Linked DNA regions of Homo sapiens: region 2 is linked to region 1. The links come from fine-mapping of genetic effects on gene expression. Tissue or cell type: whole blood. Region 1 holds a variant in brackets; the other region holds the start of a gene. All regions are shown on one strand. Distances are from middle to middle.

Evidence for each region. PIP is the estimated chance that this variant, and not a neighbour inherited with it, causes the effect.
Region 2: RGCC starts here. The variant in region 1 is fine-mapped to the expression of RGCC in whole blood (TOPMed, PIP 0.96).

What each region holds. Positions count from the first base shown.
Region 1 is chr13:41,508,053-41,510,809 of GRCh38, reverse strand. No RefSeq gene overlaps it. Among named protein-coding and RNA genes, the nearest start is that of RGCC, 52 kb to the right of the region's middle. The variant C/A (reference allele first, on the strand shown) is at 1,636.
Region 2 is chr13:41,456,024-41,458,780 of GRCh38, reverse strand. It overlaps RGCC (regulator of cell cycle), which reads right to left and starts at 1,231. Exons shown (of 5, transcript NM_014059.3): 1 at 1,025-1,231; 2 at 311-496. The coding sequence starts at 1,073. RefSeq lists enhancers at 189-318, 368-1,045 and a silencer at 619-1,458.

The DNA of each region.
Region 1 (2,757 bases):
GGGTCTTTCCCCATCCTTGGCTTAGTTTCCTCACATATATTCTTCAGTGCTCACCATAATGCTCACGAGACCCCTCTGCAGACTTCCAGAGTTCTTTCTCTGGGCAACTTTGTCTCCTCTTGGGCTCCCCTAGATAGCTCCAGGGTGGAGGATGGTCACCAGAAAGGCCAAGCAGGATTAGAGGGTTGGAGCTTTCATCCCCACCCCCTCCCCCAACCTCCAGGGAGAAGAGAGGGGCTGAAGGTCAAGTTGATCACCAAGGGCCAATGATATCATCAATCATGTATATGTAATAAGGCCTCCATAAAAACACAAAATGCCAAGGGTGCAGATGAGCTTCCAGATGGCCGAACACCTGGAGGTTCCCAGAGGGTGGCGCATCCAGAGAGGGTATGGAAGCTCCGTGCCCCTTCCCATACCTAGCCCTGTGCATCTCCTCCCTCTGGCTGTCCATCTGTATCCTTGGTAATGTCCTTTATAATAAATGGCTAAACAGAAGTAAAGTGTTTTCCTGAGTTCTGAGGGCCACTCTGGCAAACTAATCAAACCCAAGGAGGCGGTCATGGGAACTCCAATTTATAGCCCATTGGTCAAAAGTTCAGGTCACCACCTGGGACTTGGCATCTGAAGTGGGGGTGGTCCGGTGGGACTGAGTCTTCAACCTGCAGGATCTGACAGCATCTCCAGAATTGAATTATAGGACACCTCCCAGCTGTGTCCACTGGAGAATCTGGTGTCAGGGGAGTCATGTTGAGTGTGTGTCAGAGCAGGCAAAACCGTTTGGTTTTTCTTACCCTGTAAGACAGGCCCACAGGAGGGTAATTCCTGCCTCTCTTAGTCTACTTTGGCAAGAAGTGGAAGTTCAAATGAGTTGTTTAATTGACTAGTGGATTTTGAGAACAAATAAAAGGCGGCCAAATTCTTCTGAAAGCTCAATTTCCTAATTAAGTTCCAAGTCTTTAATTTTGGAGGGGAATAGTCACCCCAGCCATTGAAGGCCATGTCATCTCTACTGTCCAGAAACACAAAGCAGAGATGTTTCACACTGTATGTCTAATGAATGTTGTAAAATTGCCTTCTTGGCGGTCCTAAAACCTTCCAGTGATCGCTTTTCTTTTCAAAATCCTCTCAAAGTCCAAGGAAAGGGGCCTTTCTTAAACTTGTAGATGTCAAGCGGACTAACCATCACCTACCCAAACCTTAGCCTAACACCTGCCATGTTTCCCACGGAAATAATGCACACACATAGAATAAAACTCATTAAGATGTTCATTTTAAGTGGTGTGCCCTAAGCCAATAGTCATGGCATTTTGTCTAATTTCACATCAGAGACAACTTTTGTGTCTGGTTTCTCAGCTCTTGTTCTGTTTCCTCATTTGTCTCTCCCTTGCTTTCTTCTTGGTTCTTCCTTCTCTCCTGCCTGGTCCTCAGAGGACCCTGAGTTCATTCATAGGAATTATTTTACCCCAGCTAGGGGTTGCTAGACAGCTTTTGACTCCACCTTAGAAGCCAAAATAAAAAGCAAAGAACATTAAAACTCACCTTTATCTGGATTCCTGATGTTTTTACTTTTAATACAGTAGTACATTTGGCTGCTTATTTTGGATCAGATGGAAAATCAACCCTTAGCAGAGA[C/A]AAAGGTAAACGGCCTTTGTGGATGGATTATTATGTGCTGATCTTTTACAAATAATAGATACGTAGAATGAGCAATCCTCGTGGAGCAAAATCATAAACGAACCTCCCCTTATAACCGTCCTGTTGGGCTAGTTCTTCAACCTGAGGTCAGGTTGACCTCAGGATTTTCCTGTCCACTGGCTTGACCTCAGATCATGGTCTAGAATACCAAGTAGCCTCGACATATGGCCCAAGCTGGTCTCGAACTCCTGCCTCAGCCTCCCAAAGTGGTGGGATTACAGGCGTGAGCCTCCACACTCAGCCAAAATGAATATTCTTAAGACTCAGGGTATAATTTCTGAAGCAAATTGTGCCAATTTATACTCTTACCAGCTATGTGTGAGGGTTTCTGTTTTAGTTCTCCTTGGTATTCTTTGAGGATACTTTAAAAATCTTTGCTGTAAGTCCAATTAAACCTTTTTCTTTTGTAAATTGTCCAGTCTTGGGTATGTCTTTATCAGCAGCGTGAAAACGAACTAATACAGTAAATTGGTACCAGCAGAGTGGGGCGTTGTTGAAAAGACACCCAAAAATGTGGAAGCGACTTTGGAATTGGGTAATAGGCAGAAGTTGGAGCCATTTGGAGGGCTCAGAAGAGGACAAAAAAATGTGGGAAACTCCAACTTTCTAGAGACTTGAATGGCTTTGACAAAAGTGCTGCTAGTGATACGGACAATAAGGTCCAGGCTGAGGTGGTCTCAGATGGAGATGAGGAACTTGTTGGGAACTGGGGAAAAGATGACTCTTGCTATGTTTTAGCAAAGAGAGTGGCGGCATTTTGCCCTGCCCTAGAGATTTGTGGAACTTTGAACTTGAGAGAGATGATTTAGGGTATCTGGCAGAAATTTCTAAGCAGCAAAGCATTCAAGAGGTGCTATTAAAGGTGCTGTTAAAGGCATTCAGTTTCCTGGGCCAGGCTCAGGGCTCCCGTGCTCTGTGCAGCCTAGAAACTTGGTGCCCTGGGTCCCAGCCACTCCAGCTGTGGCTGAAAGGGGCCAATGTAGAACTCAGGCCGTGGCTTCAGAGGGTGCAAGGCCCAAGCCTTGGCAGCTTCCATGTGGTGTTGAGCCTGCGAGTGCACAA
Region 2 (2,757 bases), 52 kb after region 1:
AGGAGAAGAGGAGGGAAACTGCGGAAAGGCCTGGTGCAGGTCCAGGGAGTCCTGTCTGGCTGAGTCGGGACAAGCTGCTTAAACTCGCCTGCCTGGTGACACACCCGTGGGCGGCAAGTGAACCAACCTGCCCTCCAGCGACCTTTCCCGTGATTATCGTCAGGGGCCCCGCCACCACTCGGCCTACTGCGTTGAGCTTCAGGAAACCATTCCTCAGTTTACTGATAAGAAAACTGAGGCCGCAGCCTTCGCGGGGCAGGTCCTGGGAGCTGGGAGATCCCGGCGCCATCCTAGCGGGGGCCGCACTTACTCTCCGAGTCGCTGAAGCCGCTGCTGTCGCTGACACTGGCGCTGCTGCGCCGCTTCATGCGCTCCAGGTGCTCCTCGTAGTGGAAGTGGCGCTCGTGGAAGGGCGACGCGAAGTCGGCCAGCACCGCGTCAAACTCGCACAGCGCGTCCGACAGGTCCTCCGCGGCCGCCGAGTCCAGGGCCGGGGCTGCGGGCAGGGCCAGGGGCTCAGTGCACGGAAGTCAGGGGGGCAGCGGGACCACCTCCCAGGGCCAGGAGGGGCCGCCACGGTTCCCGAAGATAACTGACACTTGGCGCCTCTGCCAAGTGACAGCCACGCAGTCGCTGTTACCTTGTAATCTTCTCCACCACCCCCGAAGTGCGTTCTATTACCAAGTCCGTTTTACAGACAAGAAAACTGAGCCTTCGCCAGGCCCAGGGTCACCCAGCGACTTGGCGCGGCCAGATTCCTCCCCAGGCGCTGCCGGTTACCTGTCCCCGCCGCTCCCCCCAACCCCGGGCGCGCGCGGAGCTGGTGGTGGAGGGAAGGTGGGACATGGGGGCCAGCCCGGGCCGGAAAGGAGGCTGCAGCCGCCCGCGCGGGAAGACCGGGGACAGGTTCCCGCCGGGGAGGATGGAAGGGTGGGGGGTGTGAAGGGACGACACGGGGCCCCTCCTTTCTCACCCGCCATCTGCAGAGCCGAGACTTTAAGGGGACCCCGGACCCCGCACTCACCTGCGGCCGCGGCGGCCGCGGGGCTGCCCTGCGCCGCGGGCGGCTTCATGAGGCGGCTCAGCTGGGCCCGGCGCGCGTGGCCTTGGGTCCTGCGAGGTGGCAGCCGGGGCTATTCGGGGGCTTGCTGTCCCGCACACTTCAGCCCTGCCAGTCCCTTCGGCGCTGCGCTCCAGCCGCGCCGCTCCCAGCACGGTCCGCGCCCGCCCTACCACCGGCTCGGGTTCCTAGATCTTATAGCCTTCGGCGGCCGGAGCGGAGGCGGGGCCGGGGCGGGGCTGCGGAGCCGGGGCGACGGGTCTGTCCCCGCCGCCCTCCGAGGAGGCCCCTGCCCCCAGGCACCGCCCTCGCCACGCGCCCGCCCTGGAACCGCGGTGACGAGGAGTCGCCGAAGCCCCGGTTACAGCCCCAAATATTTACCCGCCTCTCGCCCCCGCGCCCTGACAACCCGGCCCACGCGGTGTCCTCGGCGTCACCAGAGCTGACTGCTGGGCGCGAGCTCTGCTGCTTCCCGCCGCGTGCCAGGCACCTCCGCGAGCCGCAGCTTCCTCGGCTGTGAAGTGGACGTGGGCATGCAGAGCCTCCCTGGCTGGCGGTGAGGGACGAAGGAGCCCGCGGCCGTGTCCCAGTCGGGTGTCGGGGACGCGGAGGTCCCCTACGCATTGTCCCAAGGGGACTTCCGAGATGGTGGGCGGGCGGAGTGGAGAGGGTCGGGGCGAGAGGGGCAGGAGTTGGGGGAGTCCTGAACTGTTCCCACCGCGGAGCGCGGGGGCCTGAACTACGGTCCAGGGCGCTCCCGCCAGCCTGACTTTATCTAGAAGGGGTTTATTATGGGAAGAAACTACTGCGTCGACGCAGCGCGAACAGGGCGCCTTGCAGTGTCCACGGAGTAACGAGCCACCCTGCCCCGCGGCCTGCGGGGGCGAACGCCCTGGACTGTGCGCTGAGCTAGGCGCTAGCCTCTCGCCTCTCACCACAGACGGCTAATTAAATGTAGAGCAATTAACATGTAACGGAGTGAAACATTCAGCCTCCACTCCCAGCTAGTTTTTGTATTTTTAGCAGAGACGGGGTTTGTCCATGTTGGCCAGGCTGGTCTCGAACTCCCGACCTCAGGTGATCTGCCCACCTCAGCCTCCCAAAGTGCTGGGATTACAGGCGTGAGCCACCGCACCCAGCCAGGATTTGTTTTCAGAATATAGAAAGACCCATCTACAAAGTAATCACAAATAGACAACCTGGTAAAAATTAAAAATGAGCAAAACATTGAAACATACACCTCACAAAGGAGTATATGTTAATGACCACTAATCATATGAATAGTCCTCCTCTCTTGTCTACTCTGGGTGGCCTAGGGATATGCTTGTCTTGTGGAGGCACAAGCACTGTGGGCTCAAGAGTGGGGAGCCTCTTTCCCTGTTAAGGGGAGGACACCACTGGGATCTCTGGTGCCATCTCCTGCAATGGATCCTCTGATGTGGGGTCGAACAGAACTTCAGGAGTTGATTTCCCTGGGTGAGTGGAGCGGGATCCTTCCTTAGCTATCTGTCCCTTTGCTACTAGTATTGCTGCTGCATGCCCTCAGCCACTGTGGGGGTTCTAGCACCAGCTGTCACCAAGTGTCTATGTATGGGAACTGGTCTAGGTATCTTTACCAGTTACCTTGTGCCACGCCTTAGAAACAAGGGACCTGTCCAGGCTTCCTTCTGATGGCCAACCCACTTCTAATGGTGCGC